3 linked regions of the Homo sapiens genome follow. The protein of the gene in region 1 purifies or fractionates together with the protein of each later gene. This does not show direct contact. Each region holds a gene or a part of one and is shown on either strand. Other genes may lie near its edges. The genes, in order: NDRG1, ATP1A1 and RAB4A.

The links.
Region 2: the proteins of NDRG1 (region 1) and ATP1A1 purify together in Homo sapiens (affinity purification with mass spectrometry; 2 studies listed by BioGRID and IntAct, with this or other methods). This does not show direct contact.
Region 3: the proteins of NDRG1 (region 1) and RAB4A purify together in Homo sapiens (affinity purification with western blotting; 2 studies listed by BioGRID and IntAct, with this or other methods). This does not show direct contact.

The regions. Positions count from the first base shown.
Region 1 is NC_000008.11:133,250,117-133,260,563, reverse strand, and holds part of NDRG1 (protein NDRG1), read left to right. Parts: intron 1-1,333; coding exon 1,334-1,396; intron 1,397-2,137; coding exon 2,138-2,198; intron 2,199-3,700; coding exon 3,701-3,787; coding exon of another isoform or gene 3,788-3,838; intron 3,839-5,968; coding exon 5,969-6,025; intron 6,026-10,020; coding exon 10,021-10,124; intron 10,125-10,447. UniProt on the Homo sapiens protein: Stress-responsive protein involved in hormone responses, cell growth, and differentiation. Acts as a tumor suppressor in many cell types. Necessary but not sufficient for p53/TP53-mediated caspase activation and apoptosis.
Region 2 is NC_000001.11:116,381,602-116,392,048, forward strand, and holds part of ATP1A1 (sodium/potassium-transporting ATPase subunit alpha-1), read left to right. Parts: intron 1-1,768; exon of another isoform or gene 1,769-1,952; intron 1,953-2,412; coding exon 2,413-2,523; intron 2,524-3,181; coding exon 3,182-3,241; intron 3,242-5,686; coding exon 5,687-5,890; intron 5,891-6,529; coding exon 6,530-6,643; intron 6,644-7,036; coding exon 7,037-7,171; intron 7,172-7,300; coding exon 7,301-7,418; intron 7,419-7,837; coding exon 7,838-8,106; intron 8,107-8,611; coding exon 8,612-8,810; intron 8,811-9,180; coding exon 9,181-9,290; intron 9,291-10,447. UniProt on the Homo sapiens protein: This is the catalytic component of the active enzyme, which catalyzes the hydrolysis of ATP coupled with the exchange of sodium and potassium ions across the plasma membrane.
Region 3 is NC_000001.11:229,294,072-229,304,518, forward strand, and holds part of RAB4A (ras-related protein Rab-4A), read left to right. Parts: intron 1-1,776; coding exon 1,777-1,839; intron 1,840-3,410; coding exon 3,411-3,565; intron 3,566-4,905; coding exon 4,906-5,001; intron 5,002-8,790; coding exon 8,791-8,906; 3' UTR 8,907-8,918; intron 8,919-9,734; 3' UTR 9,735-10,447. UniProt on the Homo sapiens protein: The small GTPases Rab are key regulators of intracellular membrane trafficking, from the formation of transport vesicles to their fusion with membranes.

The sequences.
Region 1 (10,447 bases):
CTCTTAGTTCCCCCTGGTGAAGTTTTACAAATATTCTGAGGCCTGAGCCCCACCCCCAGGAATTTTTATTCCGTTGGTCTGGGTATTACAGCGCATTTTCCCCCTAGTTTACTATGTGGTTTTCGTGTGCATCTGGTGGGACCCACTGTCAGAGTGGGACCTGACTTGTTTCTTCCTCCTGGAGTAGGGCAGAGGAGAGTGTGGGGCTTGGGAGGGGTGAGGGAGCATCTCCCAGGCCCTTTAAGGGTGAGCCCCCTGTATTCTGAAGCCGAGACAGCAGAGCAGGGTAGGGGATCCCTGGCTGGGCTCCTCCTGGCCCCGGTGTCCACCACCTACACAGGAGGGACCTTGGAAGTAGAATTCTGCTGCTTCCTCGCCTCACACCAGCCCTGGGGAACAGGGAAGAAACAGAGGGCCCTGCAATTAAGTGGCTTCTCCAGTGTCACACCTTAGGAGCTGCTGGCTCCAAATTGAGCCATGGCCATTTCAGAGGAGCTTCATGTCTTTGCCGCACTTCTGCCCTGCGGCTTCTCAGCTCAGTGGCTCTGTTGATGTGGAGCCACACCATACGGGCTCTTTCTGGCTCTTCCCAGGGCGTCCGCATACACTGCTTCCCTGCCCACACGCTTTACTCATCAGGTTCCCATGACCCCTTCAGCGTCACTTCTTCCAAGAAGCCCTCCCTGATCATCTGAGCACGGCAGGTCTCTGTTTCGATAGGCTTTGTTATGAGTAACACCCCCTGTTTCTGTTGACTCGAGGGCTGGCTCCTGTCCTGGTTTGCATCTGCTTTGCTCACAGACCCCTGCCATTGCCTCACCAAGAGCCCGGCATGTGTGAGGATCAATCACTGCTTTGCGGATGGAACTCATTCATGCCTGTTTTAATTCCTTCTCCCTGACATTGGAATTGTGAAATGCCTTCTAGTCAGTTTCTGCAACACCCTAGACCCAAAACCAGACAAACACAGTGAGGACATGTTTCTGGCTAACCATCTACTGCTCTTGTGAGGCCAAGTGTCTCATCTCTCAGCCTCAGTGATGTTTATAATCTTGCTATGAGGGGAAATCCTAGCAGCCTCCTAGAGTTATTGTGAAAATTGAATGAGCTAATTCCCAGAATGTGTCCATGGGACCTGGAGCGTAGGAAGCAATTGATAGAGTGTGCTGCAGGGGTCTTGGAAGGAGGATGCGAAGGGACTAGACTTGGGGGTGGGGGGGTCTGGGTGCATGGGGCAGGCTGCTGCATGGTCCCCACCCTTCAAGCGTGTCCCTGTTTGGATTACCCGTTTCTGTCCGGGCGCTCACTAATGGCTTCTCTGTGTCATCCCCAGGTACATGTACCCCTCCATGGATCAGCTGGCTGAAATGCTTCCTGGAGTCCTTCAACAGTTTGGGTAAGAGCGAAGGATCAGCTCCTTCTCTGTCTGCAGAGAAGCCTGGTTTCTAGCATCTTCCTGCCCCTTGGCTTTGATCTGGACTGACCACTAAAATTAAGGTTGCAATTTAGAGATGAGGCAAGAAATTAGCTCGTCACTCTGTGAACACTGTTCTTCACACAGTCTCTGAGCTCTAGTCTGTCTCCTCTAACTTCAGTTTTCCTCTTGCGTGAATGTTATATTGCATGATGGCAGCTGCCCCACCCATTTGCTCTTGCCTCCTGTTCTTCCATTCCCTTCTCTTTCCCATGGAATGTTCTGGAATGGAGTTGCCTGAGTCCTTAGCTTTTCTCTCCACACCCTCATTTTTCCAGTGTTCCTCTCTGTCTTGAGCTCTTCAAAGAATGATAACTTCATGGTTCTTGCTCAATTTGTTTTCATTCCAAGTTTTAGAATCCAAAATAAAGCTTAAGAGTGGGAAGAAATGATGCCGTAACGGGCCTTCCCGTAAATGTCAGACGGTCTCTCAGAGCCTGGGTGGCGGCCAGGAGGGAAGTGAGGAGAAGGGGCGCGGCTCTCCAAGGTCGAGGTCTCTGTCCAGTCCTAAAGCATGGTGACCTCAGAGCTGTGCAGGCAGTTACGGCAGCATGCTCCCGCATTGCCTAGCCAGGCGGTCACCCTCAGGAAGTTCTAAGTGGGTCCTTGGAGGCTCCCGTCACTCTGTCCTTGTGTGACATGCATTTGTATTTTTGCTTCCAGGCTGAAAAGCATTATTGGCATGGGAACAGGAGCAGGCGCCTACATCCTAACTCGATTTGCTGTGAGTGCTTTGGCATTTTTTGAAAATCGCATTTTAAATAACATTTTAAGATGAAGGAAGACATTGGAAAAGCATCAAAAACCCAAAAGGGAAAAAGAAATGACCCGTATTCTCCACAGTTGTGTGTGTGTGTGTGTGTGGTGCATGGGTACTCGTATATATATATACTCACAGCCTTTTCTCTTCCTCCACTCAAGGATGATACTGGACACATTCCTTTGTCATGGGCTTTGTCCGCTTAGCCATCTAGTGAGGACGCTCCTCACTCACTGAGTACTCTGCTATGACACTGCTTTGTAACAGCTGTACAGGTTTTTGTAGTCAGGGCACTCCTGGGTCATAACTGATTCTAAACTAGAATCAGACACGGGAAGTTTTCATGACAGTTGTCATTGTTATTTCTCTGGGCTCAGGTCAAGAGCCACTGTTCCTTTGTATCCTCACCGAGCAATTGTGTAAGAATGCAACAATACTCATTTTGTACATCCATTGGTATTTTGACTACCTATTATTTGCTGGGCTTTGCTGGAGGTTGGGAATACTGACATGATTCTACAACATCCATCTTACAAAAAAAAGAAAGGAATGCTGACATGAATACAAAATGGTCTGGCCATATAGGCTCTCAGCAAATTAAAAATGGTCTCAACTGTACCCCAGGTGTACATATCTATATCTGTATGTATCTGCATCACATAATGACATTTTGGTCAATGACAGACTGCACATTTGACAGTGGTTCCATAAGATTATAATGGTTCATTTTTACTGTACCATTTTTATGTTTAGATTTGCTTAGATACATCAATACTTAGCATTGTGTTGCAATTCCCTGCAGTATTGGGTAGCGTCATATGCTGTACAGGTTTGTACAGCAAACCTAGGAGCAAAGGGCTGTTCTATACAGCCTTGGTGAGTTGTAGACTATACTGTCTAGGTGTGTGTAAGTATACTCTGAGATCTTCACACAATGACAAAATCTCCTAATGATGAATTTTCTCAGAAAGTATCCCTGTTATTCAGCGATGCATAACTCTGTCTCTCTCTCTGTGTGTGTGTGTGTGTGTGTGTGTGTGTGTGTGTATGCATGTGTTTATCCTGGAAGTAAGTAATACAGTTGTTACTGCCACAACTAGAGAGCATTTGTGCTGTGCGCCTTGTTTGATTGATGAGGTCGATGGTGTGTTACACCCATTTGATAGCTGGAGAAGCTGAGCCTCCGTGGGTTGAAGTGACTTGCCCAAGGCAGGCCTGCAAAGCAGCGGGCTTCCTACTTCTCCTGCACTTCCTCTTTCTCCTTCCCACTCTCTCTAGGACCCGATACCGTGTCTGCTGTGCTGGAACCTCAGTTTTGCATGGGGTGGGGCCGGGGAGCAGCAGCCTGCTCTGCTGCCCACACTGCCTTTTTCTGGGTACTTCTCTCAAGCTTTGGTTTGCCTTGGAAAGTTCCTAGTGTTTCAGATTGCTGGGATGTCTGTCTCACTTTGTGTCTTGAATTGCAGCTAAACAACCCTGAGATGGTGGAGGGCCTTGTCCTTATCAACGTGAACCCTTGTGCGGAAGGCTGGATGGACTGGGCCGCCTCCAAGGTGAGGTGGGGGCCTGTCAGGCCGGCGGGATCCCTGCAAGAAGAGGGACAGGTGCACACAGCCTCTGCCTGGGGGATCCCTGGAGCTACGAGCTCTCTCTTTACCCACTCCTCCACTACCCTCTACTGCCCACTCCAGTTCCCTCTGCTTTACTTAGAACAGTACACATGACCTCAGCCGTTTGCCATTCAGAAGACTTAAATACCACCAAGCTGTCTAAGCCAGGGAAAGCACTGGGACACAGGTCCCTGAGGCAGCTTGGAGAAGCATTGCTTGGATTAATGAGTATTAGCTGGGTACATAACTTGTGCCAGGCTTTGGTCAAGATGCTGAGCATCTTGAAGAACAAGACTTCTTGAGATGAACAAGACAAAAGCCTCTAGGAATGAATCTTAGGAATCCATTCACATATTATTAAAGAAAAATAAATATGTATTTAGTACGGACTGTGCCACAGAATTTTACGATAATAATTAGCTAACGTAGATTGAGAGTTTACCATGTGCTAGTTTCATTCTACGTTGCTGTGTGTGCATGATCTCAGTTAATCTTCATAGTAACTCTAGGAGGTGAGAATTTTTATCACCGTTTCAGAGGTAAGGACTCGGTGTGGCTAAGGGGATTGTCCAGGGTCACATAAAGCTAGGCAGTAGAACGGGGACTGGATGCAGCTTGCTTTGACTTTGTGGTTCGTGGACCTGACCACCCGTGCCCCTGGGGCTCCTGTCCAGGGTGGGAGACAGGCAGGCCTGGCAAGCAGGGTAGGCTGCCTGGAGGAGAAGGGACCTGTGCTGTCTTGGGAAGCTCTGTCCTGGCTGGTGTCCTAAGGTTCCTTGTTTATCTTTTAAAAATTATCATTGTGGTGTTTTTGTTTTTGTTTTTTTCCCTGTAAAGGCCTCAGTGTTGGCCAAGGAGAGGGGGAGGTCATTCCAGTTGAAATAGGACAGAGTCTTTCAAGCTGAGGTGATCGCAGCTTCTCATTCTGCAAGTGCATTTTTGCCCAATTTTGGGTGGCTGCCAGGGACCGATGGTTTGAAGGGGCCCTGCCTCTTGCCCCATCCCCTGCCCTGTACCAGCCACTGTGATTTTGCATTTGTTCTTTGAACATTCCTCCAGAATGCAGGAGCCCTTCCGTCCAGCCTGTATGACGTTCTGGAGTGGAACACACTCCCTGTTTTTTATTTGATTTTCCAGCAAAGGAAGTGACATTCCAGTCAACCCGCTGGGCTTCATGATAGCTGTCCTGAGTGAGACTCGAAGGTCTGGGGATGTCGACCACTGGCTAATGTGAAGCCTGAGGATTGTCTTTAATAGCTGTACTATTCCCTTCAGTACAGCTTTAATAGCTGTACTATTCCCTTCTTTTTCAACTCCAGCCTTTCGATTACCAGGCATTGGTATTAGATACTGTGATGTGTGCAGTTACTTCTTGCAGTCCTTCCCTTGACCTTGTGGCCTTGAAGTTCCTGGCACTCCCAGTTCCAGATTAGAAGTCTGAGACCCAGAGGTATGCAGACTGCCCAGTGCCACACAGCTAGGCTGTGGCAGGCAAGGGCCAGCCAAAGACCCTTAGGTCTAGAGCTTCTCTCCTACTCATTTTTGCCTAATGCTTAGGTCAGCACACATTTATGGAGCTTCTGCTGTATACTAGGACTTATAGAGCTCCTGCTGCAAACCTAGTCACTGGGGAGAGGTAGGAAAAGAAGATTGTCAGTGTCTTTGGTAATATCAGTATACTTAGAAAGGGGAAACTGGCTTGGAGATGAGAGAGGAGGGATAGTTGGGAGCCAAGCATATCTTGGGGTATAGACTGGGGAGCTCAGTGTGTTTTTAGAAGAGGTGAATGGATGGCCCTCTTTGCTGAGGACTTGGTGAATGTTTGGAGCAGGGTAAGCTAGCAGTAGCTGGGTCTTTATTCAGCACTTATTTGCTGTGCATCTTGTGCATGGGCCTCTGAAAATAAGGAACTGGATATAGTCCCAGGCCCTGCATTTGGGGGATCAGGTCCAGGAGGGAACTGGAGACAGGAACTGAGTTTCTATCAAGGGGGATGTCCTTGAGGCCTGCATGTAGGGGGGAGTCCAGCAATGCCACCCTGCACCCAGGGAAGTGGGGTTTTGCTGACCTTGTTAACTACTGTTAGCTCCTGGTTTCTCATCCACCCACTTTACTCCTTTCCAGATCTCAGGATGGACCCAAGCTCTGCCGGACATGGTGGTGTCCCACCTTTTTGGGAAGGTGAGTTGCGTGGTCTGGCAAATCTGTTGTTCCTGCTGAGCAAGGCATTGTGTGGTGCTCAGCACAGGGCCCCATGTGGGGGTGGAGAGAACAAGACACAATCAACTGGGGGCCACCGAGCTGGTGCTCATGAGATAATGTGACATTATTCATTCATAAGCAACAAGTCATTCATTCTCTCTCTTTTTTATGTGTCTTTTAAAAACAGCTGATTGAAGTACAATTAACTGCACATATTTAAAGTGTACAATTGACATGCATATACATTTGTAAAACCATCCCTGTAATCAGGAGAATAACGTCTCCATCACTCCAAGAGTTTCCTTGTGCCCCTTGATAGTCCTCCTCTCCCTCCTCCTCAGGCAACTTCTGATCAGCATTGGCCTCTATAGATTGCTTTGCAATTCCTAGAATTTTATATAAATGGCATTATATAGTAGGTACTCTTTTTTTTTTTTTTTTGGTCTGGCTTCTTTCCCTCAGCATAACCATTTTGAGATTTGTCCATGTTAATGAGTGGATCAATAGTTTATTCCTAGTCGGGGTGCAGTGCTCATTCCTATAATCCCAGCACTTTGGGAGGCCATGGCAGGAGGATTGCTTGAGCCCAGGAGTTCAAGACCAGCCTGGGCAACATAGTGACACCTTGTCTCTACAGAAAAATTAAAAATTGGCCAGGCATGGTGGTTCTGCATGCCTATAGTCCTAGCTACTTGGGAGGCTGAGGCAGGAGGATTGCTTGAGCCCAGGAGTTTGAGGCTACAGTGAGCAGTGAGCTGGGATAGCCCACTGTATTCCGCCTAGGTGACAGAGAGACCCTGTCTCTTAAAAAAAAGTTTATTCCTTTTTAGTGCTGAGAAGTATTCCATTTTATGTATGTGCAACAGTTTGTTTTTCCATTCACCTGTTGATAAGACCTTTGAGTTGTTCCCAGTTCTGGGCTGTTATAAATCTGGTCAGTAGCAAACATGTCCGTGGAGTTAGCTGTGTGCTGGGCTGGGCTCAGTCCTAAGAGCTTCACAAGTGTTAACTATAGGAATAGGATTCCACCCAGGTGCTCTGTGACCTGTGTGATAAATTCTGTTCTCATTCCCAGTTTATGGAAGAGGAAACAGACCAGAGAGGTTGAGTGACTTGCATAGGGTCTCAACCAGGGAGAGGTGGGGCCGGTATTAGAACCTATGAATCTGGCTTCATTCTGGTCACCACAGCAGGATGGCGGCTGCCTGTGCTGCTGCCTGGCTCTGAGATGAGCTGCTCTTCTGCAGAGTTACCCCACTAAAGGGGATTGAGCCAAGCCCCTCACAGCATGCTAGAAGTGAGCAGTCATCTTATCAGCCCAGCCTGCCTGGCCCCAGACACTGGTTTTGTGTCTCTAGCTGGGGCCAGCTACCCTCGGGAAGGGTATGCCATGGGCTTGGTTGCAAGCCCAGGGTCTGGAAAACCCCTTGGTTGCCTGAAATTGCAGTGACCTGCTTTGCTTACATACCACTGTCTGCTTCTGAGCTAACATGTGTGACCATCTGACACTCCCATGAGTCCTGGGGACACAGCCTCCACTCTGGAGCTGGCGAGTACACCAGGGGAACAGACGCCCCACTCTGGAGTTGACGAGTGTACCAGGGGAATAGAGGCCCCACTCTGGAGTTGACGAGTGTACGAGGGCAATAGAGGCCCCACTCTGGAGTTGGCGAGTGTACGAGGGGAATAGAGTCCCCACTCTGGAGTTGGCGAGTGTACGAGGGGAATAGAGCCTCCACTCTGGAGCTGGTGAGTGTACGAGGGAAACAGAGGCCCCACTCTGGAGCTGGCGAGTGTACGAGGGGAATAGAGGCCCCACTCTGGAGTTGGCAAGTGTACCAGGGGAACAGAGGCCCCACTCTGGAGTTGGCGAGTGTACGAGGGAAACAGAGGCCCCACTCCGGAGTTGGCGAGTGTACGAGGGAAACAGAGGCCCCACTCCGGAGTTGGCGAGTGTACCAGGGGAACAGAGACCCCACTCTGGAGTTGGCGAGTGTACCAGGGGAACAGAGGCTCCACTCTGGAGTTGGCGAGTACAACTGCTAGGTTTGCCTGTTGTGTTGGTTTCCTGTGGCTTCTGTAACAAATTACCACAAACAGGATGGCTTAGAACAGCGAAAGTGGGATGAGCAGGGTGGCTCACACCTATAATCCCAGCACTTTGGGAGGCTTAGGCGAGTGGATCACCTGAGGTCAGGAGTTCGAGACGAGCCTGGCCAACATGGTGAAACCCCGTCTCTACTGAAAATACAAAATTAACCGGATGTGGTGGCACGCGCCTGTAATCCCAGCTACTCGGGAGGCTGAGACAGGAGAATCACTTGAACCTGGGAGGCAGAGGCTGCAGTGAGCCGAGATCGCGCCATGCACTGCAGCCTGGGTGAGACAGAGGGAGACTCTGTCTCAAAAACAGAGAAAAAGGAAAACAAAAGTGTATTCTCTCACAGCTCTGAGTCTAGAACTCCGATGTCAAGCGCTGGCAGGGCCGCCCCTCCGCCACAGGCTCCAGGGGAAATTCGTCCTTGCTTCTTACTGCTCCAGGTCGCTGTCGGCATTCCTTGGCTAGTGGCTGCTCACACCACTCTCTGCCTCTGTCTTCACATGGTCTTCTCCTCTGTGTCTGTTTTATTTCTCCCTCTCCTTCCTCTTTTAAGGATACTTTCCATTGGATTTCATCCCGGCTCATGTAATCCAGGATTATCTCATCTCAAGATCCTTAATTAATTACACCTGCAAAAACCCTTTTTCCCAGCAAGTTTGCATTCCCAAGTTCAAGAGATTTGACATGGACATATCTTTTGAGGGCCACAGTTTAGCCCACTAGAGTCCTCTTTCCCCTTTTACGATTCATTCCACAGCGTGTGACACATTTTCCCTGTCCTGAGTGTGTAATCTGAAACTGATAGGAATTGGGAAAAATTCACAGCCACTGTCTCTGTTTCACTGGAGGAGGGATGTCAGACATAGCGTTGAGCATCTGATCTGATTATACCCCAAGTTATTTGGAGACTGGTTGGTCCGGCCATGGTGTCTGAGGGTACCCCCAGATCGCTATAGTTGGTTTTGATCTGAAATCCCAGCGTGATTCCTGACTATTTTTTCCAGAGTTTGCTCTTAGTAGCCAGTTGACCTCCTTGCTGCCTAAATGATCCTGGACTGTTTGATGCAGCTCAAGCTTGACACCGGCTTTCTTTGACCCCCAACTCCAACTTCTCATCTGGTTGCCACTGGTCATATCAGACCCTTGTGTGAAACCTACAGTGTCTGCCCTCGTACAAATGAGAAACAGAGCAAACAAGTTGTTTGTCGCAAATAACATTCAAAAAGCACCCAGAGACGGGGAGGCTGAGGCCGACTTCCCCAAGGCTCTGGTTGGCCGTGGTGGGAGTTGCAATTGCCCTTCTTTTCAGTAACTTCCTGTGGCATGAGTTGATTTTGCTTTTCAAGCATGAAAAACTTCTTTTCAGCTCTTCCCATTGGAAAACAATTACTAACATTTGCCTCCAATTTTTACTGTTAGTAGAGGTGAGAACACAACCTCCATTAAGTCCTACAACCTAGTGAAGTAGGCAACATTCTCTCTCTTCCCTTTTTTTTTTTTTTTTTTTTAAGAGATCTGAGGCTCAGAGAGGTTGAAAGATTTGCCTACGAAAGGGACAGTGATGAAGCTAAGCTCTAGATCCAGGATGTCTGACTTCAAATTGAAACTCCCAAAGTAATGAGTTTGGAAGGGTGGGGTGTGGCCTTTCCAGGATGGGGGTCTTTTCTGCTCCCAGCGGATAGTGAAACCCCTGTCTGCACCTGGTTGGGCGTGTTGCTTTCCCAAAGGTTTTTTTTTTAGGTCCGTCGCTGTCTTGTGGATTAGGCATTATTATCTTTACTTTGTCTCCAAATAACCTGGAGAATGGAGAGAGTAGTGACCAGCTCAGGGCCACAGTGCGATGAGGACCATCTTCTCACCTCTCTAAATGCAGGAAGAAATGCAGAGTAACGTGGAAGTGGTCCACACCTACCGCCAGCACATTGTGAATGACATGAACCCCGGCAACCTGCACCTGTTCATCAATGCCTACAACAGGTATTGGGATGTAGTTCAGCCACATCATTGCTATTTATGAGGTGTCTTCTGTAGATCCGAAATGTGGGACAGATGAGAGGGAGAGTATAAAATGAGCGGAAGAGGCAGGCTCTGAGTTTGAGCAAATAGATTAATAGGACAGGTGTCCCCAGGAAGGACACCTGGCCTGTAAGCTGGTTCCTGGCATTCAGCTCGCCTTGCAGGGATCTGAACAAACACTCCAGACCACTGGGGGTGCAGACGTGAGAGGGACGCAGTCGCACACTCAGAGGGTTGAGAGTAAATATGTGTGCCCGCTGCTGACCTTCACGAAAGGCCAAATG
Region 2 (10,447 bases), on another chromosome or scaffold:
AGTTATTAGGGAATCTAAATTCCCAACTAACTTTAGCACTGATAGTGGTGAAGCTATGGGCAAGACATTTATTTTGTAAGTGGGGGTAAAACTTTGGAACGTGTTCAAAGCCTAGCTGCTCTAGTAATCCTCTCTCCTCTTCTGGAGTGGAAGATATTGGAAGTCTGAGAATAAGCAAAGCATGCAGATTATGAAGCTGAGGGGTTATAACTATTTCATTTATTGAAATATATTTCAATGATATTCAACTTGCTCAGAGAGAATCCGTGAGCTGTATTTTAAAAATCAATACAGGCTGGGCACGGTGGCTCACGCCTGTAATCCCAGCACTTTGGGAGGCCGAGGTGGGTGGATCATGAGGTAAGGAGTTCAAGACCAGCCTGGCCAAGATGGTGAAACCCCGTCTCTACTAAAAATACAAAAATTAGCCAGGCGTGGTGGCGAGCGCCTATAATCCCAGCTACTCAGGAGGCTGAAGCAGGGAATTGCTTGAACCCTTGGGCGGAGGTTGCAGTGAGCTTAGATTGCGCCACTGCACTCCAGCCTGGGCGACAGAGTGAGACTCCATCCCCAAAAAAAAGAAAATTAATACAAAGTGGTCACATAAATCTTTTAGAGATCCTTAGTCAATGTCTTTAAAATGTTTTTTAAGTGTTGTGCTTTCTCATTAAAGGTATGATATACCTTTAATTAAAGCTAAAGATATACCACTTTAGCTGTGGTTCCTTTCTGGTAGATGACCTGCCTTTTCCTTTTTGTTTTATTTGTCCACTTGTATGTGTTACTATTTTTCATTTAAACTCTGGCACCAAGAGCTGTACCGAAAGAGGCACCAACAAATGTGGTTGCTCCATAATGGAGAGAATGTCAAGAATGTTGACTATCTTTAGACCTGCTTCATTAATAGATAAGATAGAAACTAAAGAACCCACCCAGTTGGAAGAAGTTATTAGTCAAGTAGTGCTGCACACGTGACCACAGAAGTTAAAAAGGTAAATAATGTGTCTCTACATGTGGCCCACTCCAGTGAATTTGGAGAAGGATTTCTCCTTGGAGTCTTAAGAGGATATTTTTAAATTTAAGTGAACAATGTATTTTATTTGCAACTATTAGTTATGACTGAAACACACATAATACGTTTTGATTTTCTTTTTTCATTTCAGCACAGTGAAATTATAATCTGGACACGAGTTCCTAATTATTGCTTTAGTAGCTGGTAATGCACTTAGGAAAGTTAGAAATGAGTAAAGGAGAACCACAAAATAATAGTAATAGCACCATATGTCATGCATTTTAAGAAAATTGCTAATGTCTACTTTTTGGCCTTAAGTTGTAGTTGTGGGAGGCTGCTTCAGGGGGAGGTGTCTGGAACAAGGGGCTCTTCTGCTCCGCTAAGCTTTGGAGCACCAAGTTCAGGCTTTGTGTAGATAAGCTCAAGGATTTTTCAACAGGGGTGGGGGAGTGGAACAATCTAAATTTAAACTATAGAATCAACATTTTCTTTAAAAATTGTTCCAGTTTTCAAGAGGCGTAGGTGGATCCTGTGAATTATGTGATAATGCACACGCTTTTCCTACATCCTGCTTATGTCAAAACATTTCCAGAGACTTTCATTTTGGAGGTTTTATTTTCAGGCTACAGAATGGGCTGGGCGCTCCCTTTTTTATCTCTTATGCAAAGAATTTTAAGGAGTCTTAGGCTGACTTTTTAATATGGGAAGCTGGTAAAGGTCAGTGTTCTTATGTGAGCACTAAAGATATTTAAATTTGATATGTAATAATGTCTTTGCAAAGCAAAGAATATAAACAGTATAAAAGTACTAGCATTTAGATGTATTGTATCATTTAATCCTTAAAAACATGAAATGAGGTTGGCACTATTCTTTATCTCCACGCTGTGGAAGAGGAAATTGAAATGTAGAAGTTAGTAACTTGCCTAAGGATACACTGCTGGTAAGTGGTAAAGCCCAGGATTTTAACTCAAGGCTGTCTGATTGAGAATGCGGACTCATAAGCACAATATTGCACTCTAAGTTAATAATGTAAAGTTAGTTTCATTCTTTCAGTAGGGAAGATGGAAGGCTGCAGAATAGGGATTTTGATAGCAAAAATCTCCTCATTAACCCCAAAAGGAAGTGGCACTGGCAGGGCCATTCTGAAGCCTACCGGTAGCTTCAGTATTGTTCTTAATGCTCTTGGATGGAGAGAATGTATCTTGAGCCAATGTATTAATAGTAGATTGCTTTGCTTATGTAGTAGGCAATATATGGGTATACATTTTCCTGACTATTATCTTAATGACTATTCCAAATTATGACTACCTTAAAAACTACCAAAATCCCCTGCTCCAGAATTTTCAGTTTCAGATGAGGTTCATAATTCATGGCCTCACTTTTCCCACATTCTCCTACAGGTTGGACGTGATAAGTATGAGCCTGCAGCTGTTTCAGAACAAGGTGATAAAAAGGGCAAAAAGGGCAAAAAAGACAGGGACATGGATGAACTGAAGAAAGAAGTTTCTATGGTAAGTACTAGGAGGAATATTGTATTCCATCCTTATTAAAAATCCATGATTTTTAATCCCCCAGGCCTCACTGTATTCTTCAAAGAACTGCTATATATTAAAAGAGATCATAGCAGCTGTACAGATCTCATCTAGTCGTAGAGGTTAATGTTGAACATATACTTTTTAAAAGCTGTTAGAGGGTAGGAAAAGTTATTCAGTCACTCTGGCATAACCAGAGATAACAGAAGGAACTTAGGTTGATACCATGAGTCTTTGCTTTTCTCTGTATTATATCAAACATTGGGAAATTCAGCCTCTCCAGGCGATGGAAGCTTCCATAGACTTAACCTGTCTAGAATCGACCTGGTCATCAGAGAAGGCAGATAAGGTTTTACTAGATCCCTGAGAGCTGCTGGGTTTCTCTGAAGTGTTATGGCAAATAGTAATGGGCCACGGTCACTCAGCTTTAGCCATTCTCCAGTGAAGAGCTGTCAATGATAACTGTGTGGTTGCAAAGCCACAAAGCGATGGTGAAAATTGTACCAACTTATGCACTGAAGAAAACATCTGCACTTTGTTTAATAAGCTTAATGATAGTAATGAATAATGCTATTTTTTCTGTCATTTTTTTATACTACACTGTTTAACTATTTTCTTTGTTTCTGTTTTCCCTTAGGATGATCATAAACTTAGCCTTGATGAACTTCATCGTAAATATGGAACAGACTTGAGCCGGGTATGTTCTAGTTTGAAAGCTGTTGTACAAAATCCTAGTTTTCCGTATTATATTTTCCCCTGTATTACATACAGGTCTAACCTCAGGGGCTCTAGTAAGAAAATGACAGACACCATCTGCGTATCTACCATGTGACATGCACAGAATTTGGGCATTTATATGCTACCGTTTCTTTTCCCTGAAACTTTTTGAAAGTAGATGTTATTTTCTTTTCCCTATTTTATAGCAGTTGAGAGCCAGTAAGTGGGAACACCAGGACTTGCAGTTGGCTTCAAAGCCATGCTTATGCCTTGACCTTTTGATGATAAATTTTCCCTTTATTTTTCTACATTTGTTAAATAGAGTTGAATCTTTCACCTAGTTGAATCTTCAACAATTCCCATTTTTGCACTTTTCCCAGCTAGCCCATTGCAGTGTGTTATGGTTATACTATCATTTGTTTAGTTATTCTATCATTTAGTTGGAAATTGTTTTGTACAAAAATTAAAGAAACCTTTTCATAAAATAGGCGTTATGTATCCTTGTTATGTAGAGGATTTTGATATTAAATGTGTAACAAATGTTATAAAAGTAAATAGTCTAGGGATGTCTTATTTCCAGATAATCACTGAAATGTCTGGGAATAACTTGAATAGCAAGCCAATATGTAGCATTTTTTCAGTAAGGCATCAAGAGACATGGGTACTGTGGTATTCTGATATATATTGGTTTTTGTCCACAGTTCCTGGTTCATAACTCCCATAGCCCTTATTACAGTCGTTTGTTATAATGTTGGGTGTGTTAGACCTCAGTGGCAGGCTTCAAGAAACAGGATCTCTCTCCTGCCCTCCTTTTCACCTGTCGCAAGGCAGGACTCTAATCTTGTTCCACTTTTCTGATTTTCCAGGTAGATAGTGTTGGAATTGAATTGGAGGAAACCTTGGTGGTGGGGAGAAACCGCCACACCTTTGCTCACAGAAGTCATCTTCTGTGTTGATTGTTGGGGTGTAAGAGTAGAGAAGAGGCCGGGTGCGGTGGCTCATGCCTGTAATCTCAGCACTTTGGGAGGCTGAGACTGGTGGATCACCTGAGGTCAGGAGTTCGACACCAGCCTGACCAACATGGAGAAACCCCGTCTCTACTAAAAATACAAAATTAGCCTGGCATGGTGGTGCATGCCTGTAATCCCAGCTACTCGGGAGGCTGAGGCAGGAGAACTGCTTAAACCTGGGAGGTGGAGGTTGCAGTGAGCCAAGGTTGTGCCATTGCACTCCAGCCTGGACAACAAGAGTGAAACTCCATCTCAAAAAAAAAAAAAAAAAAAAAAAAAAAAAAAGGAGAGAAGAACAAGGTTGAGAGCGTTTTTCTTGACACAAGCACTTTAAGCTCCAAGAGGAGGCCTCGAGTCAGCTCAGAACAACATGCCAACAGTGACTCTGTGCTTACTTTGTGCCAGGCAGTCTCTAGCCACTTCACATCTCACTTAAGTTTTTATTAGAGTCTTAATGAAGTGTGCTCTCTCCGACCTATGCCCATTACTCAAATGCTGCGGGTCTATTTCTTTACTTATAAAATGAGGTTAATAATGCCTAAAAAAGGATTGTCATGAGAATTAAACAAGTTAATTAAAGCACTGAATTCAGTTCCTGGCATGTAGATAGCACTCAAATGTTTGGTAACATGAGCACAAAACACAGATAAATAGATACTTTAGACAAAAATATTTTATTTTTTTTTTGACTTGTTATTTTGAGAGTATAAAAGTGATCATATTTTCCTCTCTTAATGAGAGCTTATATGTAATTGCCTGCTGTCAGTGAATCTTGGGTTTAAGGCCCATTAGAAAAATAGCAGGCTTTAGTAGAGTGGTTTTTTCCAGTGAGTACTTTTCAGTCAACAGGTTTATTGGGAGGTGGCTAAAATGCACATGGAGGTGAGCCCTTCCCTGCCAGACAAGCAAAGAATCAAGCTGTATATTTAAAACTTGGCTGTTAACCCAAAGGATTTCTACAGGAAGTTTTTTTCTCCTTTGATGTTTGTAGAGGGGTTTTTTTTCCCCTCCCGACAAAATCAATACACAGAAAACCCAAAGCTCTTAATTTGCAAAACTGAATGGATTTGTGAAAATAGATACCTTTTTGGCAGAAATGCAATTTGGCATTAATCCCTTGATCTAAAACTTAGAAGAAACCAGGCTGAATTCAAATTTATTGATGGATCAATTTAAAGAGTTTTAATCTGGGTGTTATGAGTTCCTTGGGCCTATTGTTTGCCTGAACCCTGTGGGGACTGGCTCATCAGCAGAATTATTCATGGAGGAATTTGCTAGGTTTTACCTTGGCTCTCTAGCTTGGGACATTTTGTTTCTTCCTTAAATCCTTATTGCAACCGTCCAGCTACCAGGTAGGTATATTGCCTTGTAAGTGCTGGTACAGTTTGCCTTATTTATATTCCACTGCTTCTCAGGGATTAACATCTGCTCGTGCAGCTGAGATCCTGGCGCGAGATGGTCCCAACGCCCTCACTCCCCCTCCCACTACTCCTGAATGGATCAAGTTTTGTCGGCAGCTCTTTGGGGGGTTCTCAATGTTACTGTGGATTGGAGCGATTCTTTGTTTCTTGGCTTATAGCATCCAAGCTGCTACAGAAGAGGAACCTCAAAACGATAATGTGAGTTCTGTAATTCAGCATATGGATTTGTAGTACACATCAGATATCTTCTCCGTCTTTGTCTCCCACTTCTTCTCAATTACCACTCATTACTTAATGGTTATGAACTCATTACTTAATGGTTATGAACAGCTGTTGCCTTCAAGGCTCATCCATTCTTCCTTCGTTTCCATTTCCTCTCTCTACCACCCACGTTGTAGATGCTCTTACAAGTGGGATGCCCACCTGCATGTGCTGCTGTGAGCAGGCAGCTCTGCTCAGGCCCCGGCCGCCACCCACTGGATGGCAGAGCACAGCGATTCATGTTGGCACATCCACCTGTCCAGAAATGCTTGGTGGCCATTCTTCAAAATCCACAAGTTGGTTGAAAAACAATCTTTGTTTTATAAAGCAGGAGAAACTGATGCATCTAGAACCTTTCCAAACGTCCAGTTAGTGATCAAGTGTTGGTGTGCCTGACTCCATTTCTGACCCTTCCTGTGTGGTCTTTAGAAGGATAAATAAGAAAACATGAGTTCTATATTTCTGAAATCTTGGTTTCTCTATTAAAAATCTGTTTTTTATTCAGTCAAAAAATTAATTGAATGTCCCTAATTATTGTGTAGAGCCACGGGCCCTAACTTGTCTTTTCCCTTCCAGCTGTACCTGGGTGTGGTGCTATCAGCCGTTGTAATCATAACTGGTTGCTTCTCCTACTATCAAGAAGCTAAAAGTTCAAAGATCATGGAATCCTTCAAAAACATGGTCCCTCAGGTACCAGACGCTTTGTCCTTCCCCAGTGGATGACTTGACAGCCCCAAGCATGTCAGCCTGTGAATTAGTGTGAAGTTAAGGTTTTCCAAGTATTACATGACTCATCAGAGAGATGGATGTCTTCTACCCCACCCAAAACCAACCTATTTTCCTTCTATCCAAAAAGTGGTAGCCTTTCTTTTGAATGTAAACTCTGAATACAGGCACACCATGTAACAGCAATATCTCTTAAACTGGCGAGCAAGCTTTTGTAACTTGTGTAAATAAAAAAGTGAATAATATCTTTGTTTTGTATTCAGGTAATTAGGATTATGACTATTTTTATTTTCTTGTTTTGGACACTACCTTCTCTTTGTTGGTATACTAACGGTGTAAATTGTTTCTTTTCCAAAGCAAGCCCTTGTGATTCGAAATGGTGAGAAAATGAGCATAAATGCGGAGGAAGTTGTGGTTGGGGATCTGGTGGAAGTAAAAGGAGGAGACCGAATTCCTGCTGACCTCAGAATCATATCTGCAAATGGCTGCAAGGTAGCTCTTTTATTTTAACAAACCTCATAGCTAGCTCTGCTGTTCGGGCAGCTTGATTTGAGGGGTACAGTAGCCCATGATAAGGCTGGTGTATTCACATGACATTTTTCTTCTTTTCCTCACATATAGGTGGATAACTCCTCGCTCACTGGTGAATCAGAACCCCAGACTAGGTCTCCAGATTTCACAAATGAAAACCCCCTGGAGACGAGGAACATTGCCTTCTTTTCAACCAATTGTGTTGAAGGTAGGCCATTTTTGGGCACTTTGAGCATGGCGTGGTATTTCTCTTGGGCATTAACAAAATCAAAACCATAGGCACAATCTCTTGTTTTATTGGCTCCATTTCTGAGAACTTGTGTCAAGCACAGAGCAGAGGTGTTTTCCTAGCTGGCAGGAAACCTTGTGGCAGTTTCCCTTCCCTCCACCTCCACCCTGCCTCTTCTGTCAACAACACCAGTCTGGCATGGGTGTTGGAGCTGCTGTCCTGCTACTGGAGAGAAGTCCCTTTGCCAAACAGCATGTACAGCCAAAGAGCTGGCCCTTAAAAAGTGCTTTTATCAACTCTTTTTGTTTTTTTAGTCATCCTATGTAATTGTGTAAAATCCGTGGCTTCCTTCAGGTTAGATACAATTAGGTACAGTTCTCCCTCCCCTTCTTTTTAAGGCACCGCACGTGGTATTGTTGTCTACACTGGGGATCGCACTGTGATGGGAAGAATTGCCACACTTGCTTCTGGGCTGGAAGGAGGCCAGACCCCCATTGCTGCAGAAATTGAACATTTTATCCACATCATCACGGGTGTGGCTGTGTTCCTGGGTGTGTCTTTCTTCATCCTTTCTCTCATCCTTGAGTACACCTGGCTTGAGGCTGTCATCTTCCTCATCGGTATCATCGTAGCCAATGTGCCGGAAGGTTTGCTGGCCACTGTCACGGTAAGAGGCAGGTGATGGTCACCCTGACTCAGATCAGCTTGCACGAATGTTACACTCTTCCGCTATCCTATTCTAAGGTATTGCCAACTTATGTTTTATTCTGGATGTTTGATATAGTTCTTCTTGAGAGCCACATCACGTGGTGAATTTTGACAGTGAGAAAACCTCAGCATTTGTTTATACGTAAGATAACCCCAAAGCATACATTTTGCTTTTAAATTATCACGTGGTCCTGAACAGTGCAGTGGAGAAAGGAGAAGAACTTGGGATCAAGTAGGGGGATAGAATATGGTAGAATCCTGTTATTATTTTTCTTAATAGATTGCTTTTCTGGAAGGAAGGGGAAGCCTCATGTATGGGTTCCCCTTATTATTTCTTCAAACTTCAGAAGAAGGTTGGAGAGATTTAATTTTAGACAAATTTCTTCCACATTAGGATATAGCAAGAATCTGTATAGAATTCCAGCCTGGTTGAGTGAAGTAATAATCTTCCTAATATTTTTTAGGTCTGTCTGACACTTACTGCCAAACGCATGGCAAGGAAAAACTGCTTAGTGAAGAACTTAGAAGCTGTGGAGACCTTGGGGTCCACGTCCACCATCTGCTCTGATAAAACTGGAACTCTGACTCAGAACCGGATGACAGTGGCCCACATGTGGTTTGACAATCAAATCCATGAAGCTGATACGACAGAGAATCAGAGTGGTAAGGCCAGGGTTACCACACACCTCAGCCACCTGCTGACTTCGCTTGGTTTTTTTTCTTTTAAGAAATTGCATGAAATTTCTTTTTTTTTTTTAAGCTCATGGCAGCTTTTTCTTTCTTTTTTGTTTTTTTTTTTTTTATCATTTAGTGAAGAGTCAAGGGTATGGGATATTGATTTTTTGCATGTCAGTAGAAACTTTAAATTGCCCTACAAACGTGACTGAAGAATGCCTAAAATGTGATTGGTTTCATTAATTGGGAAATGAGATGTATCACTGCAGATTTCTATGGGACTTTAATAGGAGAACTGAGAACACAGCCTTTGAAGTTAATGCATTGTTGTTCTGTTGTGTTTTCTTGCCTCCATCAGGTGTCTCTTTTGACAAGACTTCAGCTACCTGGCTTGCTCTGTCCAGAATTGCAGGTCTTTGTAACAGGGCAGTGTTTCAGGCTAACCAGGAAAACCTACCTATTCTTAAGGTATGCTCAAGAGTTAACTAATGGAGGGATGTAGACAGCACATGAGAACTGCCATTTGAGTGTTAAAAGTAGCAAATTACCTTTGTGGTCTGTGTGACTGTTCACTGTAGAACACCTGGAGTGGTCTGTGCAGTACTTTGCTGTGTGTAACTTACATTGTGTTGCCTGTAGATCCTGATGTATTATAGGACCCCCTGCTCCATATAGGTTGATTAAAAAGGGAAGATGCAGTAAAAATCTGACCAAAGTGGGAGGGGAGGAGACGGAAGACAGTCTTTATTGGTGAAAAACCTAATTCATCTGCTTTTACTACTCTTGAGTTTATATGTTATCACCTAACCTAGTGGACAGTGAGAGCTGAGGGCTGCAGTGACTCCATAATCGTATTTGCATATTAGGATACAGTAGATTCCAGTAACTCCTTTAAGCCATTTATTTTCCTGAAATAGCTCAGCTTATCTTATCTTATTGGTTCTTAGCTTGTTTACTAATGATGTAAAAATAAGCTCCAGGCCAAAATAAGCCCAGCCTTAGCCTGTGGAATTCTGATGCAGTTTGAAATGATTGAGATTTTACTATGCTGCCCAAGTGAAGATGCAGTCTCAGAAGGATCATGAATTGTACAAAGTCCTGTAGGAGAAGAAAGCTATGTGAGGCTCTCTGGGTCCCACATTCTCTGTGAAGCTGCCTGTAGTAGTTGTGGGTATAAACTAAGTTGCCAAAGGGAATATGGCTTGGATGTAACTCAGATGCCTTCTGTGATGAGGATAGGGTTCATTTATTCTGCAAAGGAGATTTTCTTGGCATTGAATTGATGTTGATTTGAGGATAATGTTGTGTATCTTGAGGATAAAACTTGAGATAAATGTTTCATGTTTTTCTTTACCTCAAAGTGGAAATGTTCTAGGCTTTGAGCATCAGGTCCCACAAGTATCAAATCTTTCCTGATTAAAAAACCCCAGAAAGGTAGCAGAAGCTGTATTCCAAGTATTTCTGGAGTTCGGCCATGTTGATGGCATTATTACTAAAAAGCGGGGAGGGAGAAGCAGCCCTATTCTGCTTTTATTAAAAATGGCTTTTATTAAAATAAGTGGCTTTTATTTAAAATGTCCCCCACTTATTTTGTGTTTCTTTCCAAACCCAGCCAACTTTCTTGC
Region 3 (10,447 bases), on another chromosome or scaffold:
AGGATGAATGTGGAGCTGATTTGCTTTAGAAACAGGGTGCGTGGTGATGCCTCTTCCTAGGCCAGGACGGGCCTGGAGGGTGGGACCAAAAAGAGTCCTGCTGTGCAGATGTTAAGTTTGACATGTTTATCAGGCAGTCTCATGGAGATATGGAGGCAGCACTTGGATCTGAGCTGGAGACAAAATTTGAGTCGAATGTTAAGAGAGCCCAGGACCCAGCTCTGGGGAATCGCAATCCCAGCAGGGCAGATTCAGAAGAATGACCAGAGCCAGAGAAGTGGCTGGTGAGCGGGAGGAAGACTAGCAGAGTGCAGGGCGCAGAGGCTGCGCGAGTGAGTGAGGACAGAAATGCCCACTCCAGCTTCGGTTGCAGAGAGGGTGGGGACCTTGACAGGCTTTTGGGGAGTAGCAGAGATGGACACTAGGTTGGCGGTGAAGAAGAGGAAGCTGCAGGTAAAGACAGCTCTTTCAGAAAGTTGGATGTGGGGCCACGCGTGGTGGCTCACGCCTGTAATCCCAGCACTTTGGGAGGCCGAGGCGGGTGGATCATCCGAGGTCAAGAGTTCGAGACCAGCCTGGCTAACATGGGGAAACCCCGTCTGTACTAAAAATACAAAAATTAGCCAGGCGTGGTGGCGGGTGCAGCTACTCAGGAGGCTGAGGCAGGAGAATTGCTTGAACCTGGGAGGCAGAGGTTGCAGAGAGCTGAGATCGCGCCATTGCACTCTAGCCTGGGTAACGAGCGAAACTCTGTCTCAAAAAAGACAGTTGGATGTGGAGAAGAGCAGACAGTGGGACAGTAACTGAAAAGATGGTGCAGCATATTTCTGTTTTGTGTTTTAAGATGGGCGGTACCAGAGCCAATTTATTTTTATTTTGCTAATAGGAAAAATCCTGAACTCCTGGCTTTTTTTTTTTTTTCTTTCTGTTGCCTGGGCTGGAGTGCAGTGGCATGATCGCTCACCGTCACCTCAAATTCCTGGGATCAAACAGTCCTTCTGTCTCAGCCTCCTGAGTAGCTGGGATTACAGGTGTGTACTGCCATACCTGGCTAATTTTTTGTAGAGACAGGGTCTCTCTCTCTTACCCAGGCTGGTCTCAAACTCCTGGCCTCAAGCAGTCCTCCCTCCTGGGCCTCCTAAAGTGCTGGGATTATAGGTGTCCGGCCACTAATGGGAAAAATCTCACAAAGAGGGTGAGATTGACAATGTAGGGGAAAACATGTATGACCAAAAGACGCCTTCTTGAATGTGAGAGTGGATATGACATACTGGGACACTCAGTTTTCCCGTAGTAATAGGGCAGGGATGCAGGTGGGTGTAGGGCCGTGGTGACTATGGATTCCTGTGGTGACTATGGATTCCACCGCGCCGAGAGGTGGCGAGAACTGGAAGAGATGGAGAAAATTGTGCCAGGGAGTGGGGTAGATGAGGAGCTCGCAGAGAAGTGAGTGGATTGCTGAGCCCCTTAGTGTCCATCTAGGGGGTGGTGCTGGCTTCCGCAGACAGCTCACCCTGCTAGGAGTTCTCAAAGGAGACATCCATCAGAGAGCTGCATCCGCTGTGAAGGAATCTCCTACTTGCCACAGTGATGTGATTTCAGGCAGAATAACCCCTCACATGTATGTTCAAATATCTTTGAATCATTTCTCTTTTAAACCAGTGTCTGTCCCTGTGTTGTGGTTTACAAAGCAAGCATGGGTGTTTTTTCATGGGAAAGTGGGATACAGTAAAGGGTCTCAATTGGTTGAAAGTAAAACCAGTATAATTCTTCCAGGTCCGTGACGAGAAGTTATTACCGAGGCGCGGCCGGGGCTCTCCTCGTCTATGATATCACCAGGTAATGCCAGCTCCCCCTGGTGAAGGAGGGTGCTCAGTGCCCTGCAGCCCAAAGGCTGGTCTTGGCGAGGTGCCCTCCGTGCAGTGTGTGCTTTGTGTGTCCAGGGACGGTGGTGTGGCTGGCATCCAGGAAGCCCCTTAGCCCTTCCATCTGGGGTCTCAGAGGTCTTTGAACGAGCCCCTACCACTGCTTTCCCCTGCAGAGAAATGTGTTTGTAAGGTTTTAGGTGGATAAAGCAATCCATGCTATTACATTACATTTCTTGACATGATGCTTGGACACTTTCCTTAAGGTTCACAAAGCTTTATGTATGGAAAGTTATTAGAAGTGAGTTGAGAGAGGGTGAGGACACAGACTCTGGGCTGAGATTGCTGGGTTCAAATCCCAGTTGCAGTCACTAGCTGATTGACCCTCTCAGGCCAGGTGCTTCAGCTGCCTGGGCCTTAGTTTCCTTGTCTGTAAGATGGAGATAGTAATAATCACATGATCCTCAGGAGGTTATTGGGAGGTTTAAATTAGTTAATGTGAAGCAGTTAGTAGCTGTTTGTGACATATGGCAATTTAACTGAAATAAAAAATTCTGTTCCTCGATTGCACTGGCCACATTTCAGGTCCTCAGTAGCTACATGTGGCTGGTGACTACCATATCAGGACAGATTATAGAACATTCCTATCCATGAGGAAATCACATTCAGCAGTGCTGATCTCAGTAGCACTGTCTTAGAAATGTGTCATCTAAATGGCATCATCTGGGGGCCCTTTCTGGGTAGGAACCTGTCCAGTGAGAGGATGTCACTCAGCAGCCGCTTCCCTCTTCCAATCTGTGTCCCGGGAGCCAGGCGTTCTGAGAGGAGGAAGGCAGTTTCTGGCCCAGCCCTTCCTGCACTTGCCCAGGCAGTGAAAGGCTCAGCCTGCTAAAGTGTGAAGTCATCAATCAGGCTAGCAAAGTGCCATGAGAAGAACTCAATCCTTAGACACATGAGGGCCAAAAATAGTAAGTCTGAGAGTTGGTCCTGGAGTCAGACAGAGCTGGTCAAGTCCTGACTTTGCCACTGGCTGCTGTATGACCTAGGGCAACGTAATTAATCTCTCTGGGCCTTGGATTTCTCAGAGAAAAGGGGAATAATGGCAGTCTGTGTCATGGAATCTTTATAAAGAATCAATGTGATAAAGTCCTGTAAAACAAAGTGCTGGCACATTGCAAGGATTCATTAAGTGGCAGCAATTAGCTATGAAATCTTGCCTACCAGAGTCTAGTGCCTTGCGCATGCTAAGAGCTCAATAGATATTTGTCAATTGAATGAAGGAACATCTCTTTCCTTTTGCCCCATGACTGGGCAAACGAAAAATAACAAAATATCTCACTTGCTGTCTCATTTTACCAGAAACAAAATGGAACAAACTGTGGGTATGGTATATACTTGGTGCATTCACGTTGTCTGAGTTATCTTAAAGGTGTTGGTGCCATTACCCTGAAATGTTGAAAAGCGGTATGAGTAGTGAGAATGACTGGAAAGAGTTGCTAGTTTTATAAAATACATGTATTATTTTCACAATCTTATATTACGCAGCCGAGAAACCTACAATGCGCTTACTAATTGGTTAACAGATGCCCGAATGCTAGCGAGCCAGAACATTGTGATCATCCTTTGTGGAAACAAGAAGGACCTGGATGCAGATCGTGAAGTTACCTTCTTAGAAGCCTCCAGATTTGCTCAAGAAAATGGCAAGTGACCTTTTACTTCTTACTATTTTTCAAATCGCATATTTGAGGATAATAGCATTTCTTTGAATTTAAAACATATATTGGAATTTCAAGATTAAACTAGATTTAGGAAATGTGGAATTTCCAATTGTTTTTTTCTATAAATTAGACCTATTAAGCATATTTTTAGTATATTGCATTCTGCCTGCAGAAGTTACTATAATGATAAAAGCAAATGTAGTAACATTATGTAATGACTTTTCAGTCTAGGGTCTTTGAATATTAGAGATCTTGGGCTAAAGTGAAATTAATAATATTTAAAGACTCTAACCAAATGATGTCATTATTTTTTAATGTATTTTGAAGGAAATTTGGTGAAATATTAACCCAAATAGAAAGGGAAGCGGAAGAAGAAATACTTGGCTTTTTGGCTTCATTTTAAGTCATTTGGTTATAGACAACTTTGAAACTTTTTTGAATTTCCATATAGAATACATGAAAATGCCACATAAAATTAATGGTTGCTTAATTAATGGATAAGAGAATGATTTTTTAAAACTTCAGACATTTTAAATAACTTTAATTTTTAGAACCAAAAACTAGAATCCTAATATCAATATTTGGACTCTAAGATTCCAAATTATATTGTAACTTGACTAGTTTCTTGCTAAGAAAATAAACATGAGAGAAATCCATATGCCATCATGACAGTTTTTAAAAAGCTGTTTAGAAATCAGAAGTTTAGAATGTTAACAAAGATGAAAAGGAATTTAGATGTCATCTAAACTCATTTTTACAAGTGAGGATACAAGAGGCTAGAGAGGCCATGGTTTGCTGAGAGAGCAAGCAGAACAGGCCTTTCTGCTGAGATGAACAGCCACTCTGGTGGGTAGAAAGAGTATTAATTCCTATACTGTCTCTTCATGGGCTGTATGACAGATTGCAATATAGTCCCCTAAAAAGTGTAAACACTTGTAGGTCATATTTGTGGTGACACTCAGATTGTTTGAAGAAGGACATTGCAACTTTCCCTGAAATCAATGGCAGGGCCATTTTGGCAAGCCAGCTCCTTTCTGATGGGCTGTCATTTGGCTGGGGAAGCCTGGTTGCTTGCTCAGCCCCTTCACCAGGTTAAGTGCTAGCACAAGATAGCAGTTACTTTTCAGAAAAGGCTAAAATTCTTTTAACATTTAAAAAACACATAATGACATATATTGATTTTATATTTACAGAAATATATGGTTTTAGGTCATAAATTATATTTCGTCTGCTTTTCTAAGAGAATGCTACACAGGCTTTTGTAAGTGAAAATTATGATCATCTTCTAAACATGACTTTATTTTGTTTGATGTCCATTTTAGAGCTGATGTTTTTGGAAACAAGTGCGCTCACAGGGGAGAATGTAGAAGAGGCTTTTGTACAGTGTGCAAGAAAAATACTTAACAAAATCGAATCAGGTAAAAGCCTTTCCATTAAGCAACTTTTCTTCTGCATATTTTACACTGTAGCTCAGTAGATCACCTTTTAATTAATAGTTTCAGGGTGATTTAGTAAAGAATGTTCTCTCTCTACCTGCCAACCTAAAATCATCACATATGGGTTCAAAGGTCCTGTTCTTATCAGGATGAAAGCCCCATCCTTATCAGGATGGTTTCCATGGTGATGAAAGTGGATGGGCACACCAGCTCAGCTGTGGAAAGGTAGTCAAGGTTTCAGGGAGTGTTTGCATTTAGAACCATAGTCTTTCTTTGGTCCTTCACTAAACGGAGGAAGAATAGGCCTTTGTCCACTCTGTCAACAGCACGCTAATTCTGTTGGGCCAGTGGTCATGTGTAAGGGAGTTATAGGTACATGGTATAGTGTTGATTGTTGCAGATCGGGCATCATGGAACTATGGAGTCCAGAGTAATTTTATTTCTGAAGCTTACTGAGCATGCCTCAATTATAAAATGCCTCATTTTTGTATTTGCTTATTAAAATAATTTAAAATAATCCTAATGTAGGCAGCTGACGAAATACTGTGTAGTTGTCATTTACTAAAGTAACTATATATGGGCATCACCTTTTAATTGATTCATTCAAACATCTGAGTGCCTATTTGTCAGATGCTGGGATACAAAAATGAATAAATCACACCCCTTGCCCCCCAAGAAACTGTCTTTCATGGGAGACAGTCAGAGGATAATTATAATATCACAAGGCTGATGTAGTAGCTGAGAGATGCACAGGCTCAGGGTAACGTGAAGAAGGGGACCTGCCCCAGCCAGAGGATAGAGGAGGTGTCAGGGAGGGCTTTCAGGGGAGGTCTTAGATGAGCTCAGTCTTTCAGAATATAAGGAAGAGTGAGCCAGCAAAGGGAGTGAGGAAGAGGGAATAGCAGGAGAAAAGGTTGAAGAAAGGCAGGAGCCAGCCAGTCCTCATCAAGGATCTAGAACTTTATCTTGTAGATTACCAATTGTCAACCCTGGATGAGCACTAGAGACACTGAGATGCATTAAAAGTTCTAATCCCAGGCTCTGCCTCTGGAGACGCTGAACTAATTGGGCTGAAGTATGGTCGAGGCACCAGTGTTTTTAAATGTTTACTCATGCTGTTCTAATGTTCATCCAAGATTGAGAACCACTGCTGTAGGTGGTGGGTTGTCAGCAGGTGGGTGATGTGATTGGGTTGTGACTTGAGATAAGTCATGTATGTAGGAGGTTATGTTGAAAACAAACTGAAGGGAGGACAGGCCTGGAGGCCAGGATACCAATTATAAGGCATTTTTGAGTAATCCTAGTAAGAGATGACTGATTAATGCTTTAACAAGGATATGGAAGCAGAGATGGAGAGAGAGATGGATCTAAGATATATTTAGGCAGTAGCATCTTATGACTCATATGCCCAATAGTGGGACAGGACAACTGACTCTTAGGTGGGACAAGGTGAGGAGGAAGGGCCAGCAGGGGAGGAGGAACCAAGGATGACTCGCAGCTGTCACACTGGTGTCTCTAGACAGAGATGGGGTGGAGCCAGAGGAGAAGCAGGGAATGTGAGGGAGTAAAGATGGCTCTGTTGCAAATGTGCGGCCTTTGCGGTAACGCTGAGACATGAACATGGAGTTATCTAGTAAGCTTGGGGAAGAGTTCCTGGCTGGCAGTATAAGTTTGGGAACCATCAATATATAGGAACAGCTAAAACTGTGGAAGCAATGTGATCGTCCGGAGAACAGTGTTTAAGGAGAGCAGTGATCAACAGAACCCTGGAGTTGGAGGATGAGCAGAGGAAGAGGAATCTACAAAAAAGATGAAAAAGGAAATGGTCGGAAATGTGTGAAGAAAATCAAGGGAATGTGGGTGTCACTTAAGCCCTAATTATAAGCAAATCAAAGGAGTGTTCATTATGTAATGTAATAGTAACAGAGGGAAGCCTCATAAGCTAAGACTGAGCTGAAAAACACACATTGGGATGGGGAATAGAAAGTCAGTGATCATTTTGATCAAGAACAATTTCAGCAGAATTATGAAGGTAGAAGATGGCTGGCCGTCCGTTAGGAAGAAGTAGGAGGTGAGCAAGCAGAGTGTCCACTCCTCTCCTGAGGAAGCACAGGCTGGCACTGTAGGGTGCAAAGGGTTAATTTAAAGCTGGGGTTGTGGGTGATGGGAGAAATTCCAGCATGTTTAAATGCTGAGGGGGAAGGAGAGAAGAATGGGCAAGGAGAGGGCAGGGAAGAAGGAGGGTGCTAGGTGAAGTAGGAGGGAGGAGAGTCGGGCCCAGGTAGAAGGGCTGGGTTTCAACAGAAGTGGACATGTCATCTTTTTGTATTTTTTTTTATCAGAAAGAAAAAAAAATTACTAAGCTTGGTACAAAAACCAAGACACTGTTACATAAATCCTTACAGTTGGCTTACTGTTGAGTATTATTAAGCTCAGCATGAGGTTGTATTTACATGACCTTGCTATTTTAATATTGTATCCCTGAATGCATCAGATAGAACAACTCATATGCAGTCTTCCAAGATGTGTTTTTTTCTGAGATCATCAAAATCATAAGTACCTCTAGGTGAAAAAAATATAAGAGTATAAATTAGGATTCTTCAGCAGTACTTTTTATTTTTTTAATGGGTAATACATTCAGAAACCATTGTTTTCTTCCCTTTTTTTATATAAAATGTATCATATGATAGACTACCACGCCTTGCTTTTTTACTTACTATTGTATAACCTACAAATCATTACAAATCAGCTTATAGTTTCCGTATATACATATAATACATAAGGTACATATATATAACATAATGTCATACATAATGTGTGTGTGTAATGTGTAATATGGGTTGAGTATCCCTAATCCAAAATGTTCCAAAATCTGAAACTTTTTAATTGCCAACATTGCCACTGAAAGGAAATGCTCATTGGAGCACTTCAAATTTCAGATTTTCAGATTAGGGATGCTGAACTGGTAAGTATAATGGAAATATTTCAAAATCTGAAAAAATCCAAAATACTTCTGGTTTCAAGTATTTTGGATAAGGACTGCTCAACCTATATTTGGATAAGGACCGCTCAACCTATGTGTTACCATAATTCATGAGCCAGTCTACTTTGGACATTTGGGTTGTTGCCAGTATTTTGCTATTATAAGTAATGTTACAGTAAATAATTATATATATATATATATATATATATATATATATATATATATATATATATATATTTTTTTTTTTTTTTTACATGTGCATGAGTCTGTGTGTCAGACAAATGCCCAGAAGTGGAATTGCTGGGTCAGAGAACATAAGCATTTGGGATCTTGGTGTAGAGGCTGTCACATTTTCTCCTAGTGATGGGCTTATTTCACTAAAGCCATGTCCACAGCATGTAGTATCATCATACTTGGACTTTTGGCCCATCTAATAAGTGAAAAATTATATCTTTGTAATTTAATTTTAAATTATTTTATATAAATAATGTATTCACATAATTTGAAATTCAAGAAGTATAAAAGAGTATGCAATGAAAAGTCCCCCTGTTACCACCCCCTCCTGTCCTCAGCCATCTAGAACTCCTCCGAATCAGCCGTTCCTTATGTATCCTGCTAGAGATGTTTTGTGCCGGTGCAAGCAAACATATATATAGTTTTTTCCCTTTATTCAGAATGGTGGGATATATACACAGTGTTCTGTACTTTGCTTTTTTTTTTTTTAATCTATTTTTGGAATCAAAGAAACATAAAAGCCTTTTTTAAAAGAAGACTTGCTTGGTCCTTAGGTGAGCTGGACCCAGAAAGAATGGGCTCAGGTATTCAGTACGGAGATGCTGCCTTGAGACAGCTGAGGTCACCGCGGCGCGCACAGGCCCCGAACGCTCAGGAGTGTGGTTGTTAGGAGAGCACACAGGTGGGTTTGGACACCTCCCTGCCCTGAGTTCCTGGCAAGCTCAAGTGCAGAGGCCTGTTAAAGCTTTGGGAAGCTGCAGTATGAAAAAGAGGGGATCCCAGCCGGGTGCAGTGGCTCTAATTCCAGCACTTTGGGAGGCTGAGGTGGGCCAGTTGCTTTAGTTCAGGAGTTCGAGACCAGCCTAGGCATCATGGTGAAACATCATCTCTACAAAATACAAAAAATTAGCCAGGCGTGGTGGCGTGCACCTGTAGTCCCAGCTACTCATGAAACTTAGGAGAATTGCTTGAGCCTGGGAGGCGGAGGTTGCAGTAAGCCAAGATCATACCACTGCACTCCAGCCTGGGCGATAAAGTGAGAACTGTCTCAGAAAAAAAAAAAAGAGAAGGAGAAGAACCCATAAGTTAAAGTTGGATGTTCTAACTGAAAGAATTTATACTCTATAGGAAATTCTTATGCTCTTGTTCAGAAAGAAAGGAAGGGCAGGTGGTGGTTGATGGGAAGGGTGAGATATCCTGATTCCTTATGTCAGTGAGGAGCCCTTCCTGGATTGATTGAGGTCTAAATGAATGTGCCTTTTGCTAAAACAGGAGGCCTATTTATAAAATTGACAAATGTCTCCCTTTAACTTTTTAAAGCTTCTTCTTTTTTCCCATTTACCACAGTGGACGTTTTATTTATAGTCGACATCATGTAGTAGGCACAGGCAAGTGTTAAAAGACAAGATATTCACGAATTCTCTTTTAGGCTTTAAGCTGTATTTACTTTTGCATTTATAGTTATGCAGATTTTGAAATTGTTCTTAATATTTTTTAGGTGTTCATACAGTGGCATTTGGGACACAATCGTTGGAACCTGAAGAATCTGAAGTTTTTTTTACCACCATCTTTTTCTACTCTGTATGGAAGTAGATCTTTATGGGGAAAAGAGAATTTGGGGTGTTCTGCAAGCCAGTCAAAGTGGCACAGCAAATCATATAAATCGAATTAAATGGACAACACCGTTAGATGTGTATGTAAAAATTTTCTGTTTCATATTTTTCCTTTCACTTTCGGTTTAAAACATGCTATATGTACTGTATGTCCTGTAGCCCAGTGCGGCTCCACAGCATGGAATCTGATGTATGATATGATAGAATGTGGCACTAAATGCAGTTTCAGATTTTATTTTTTTTAATCATATGAACTAAAATTGTCAATTGTGAGGTGTGCTTTTCTCATCATGTTGGTTATATTGCACAATTGGTTATATTTATGACCTGATATTCAAAGACTCTGGCATTGATAGCCAGTGTGTTTTCTTATTTAACTCCGTTTACTACATTCTACATGGTGTTTACGTGATCCACACTTGAAATACTAGATCAGTAGACATTCACTAATATACCAAAATAAAATGAAAAATTGAGTTTTTCCGTGAACTTTATACTGTCCAGCTCTGTTGATTTTAAAGCCTCTTCATCCAGGTCAGTTCAGGAAGTATATCTGGAGTACCTGCTCTGTTTTTGGCTGTGAGACTAGCACTAAGGA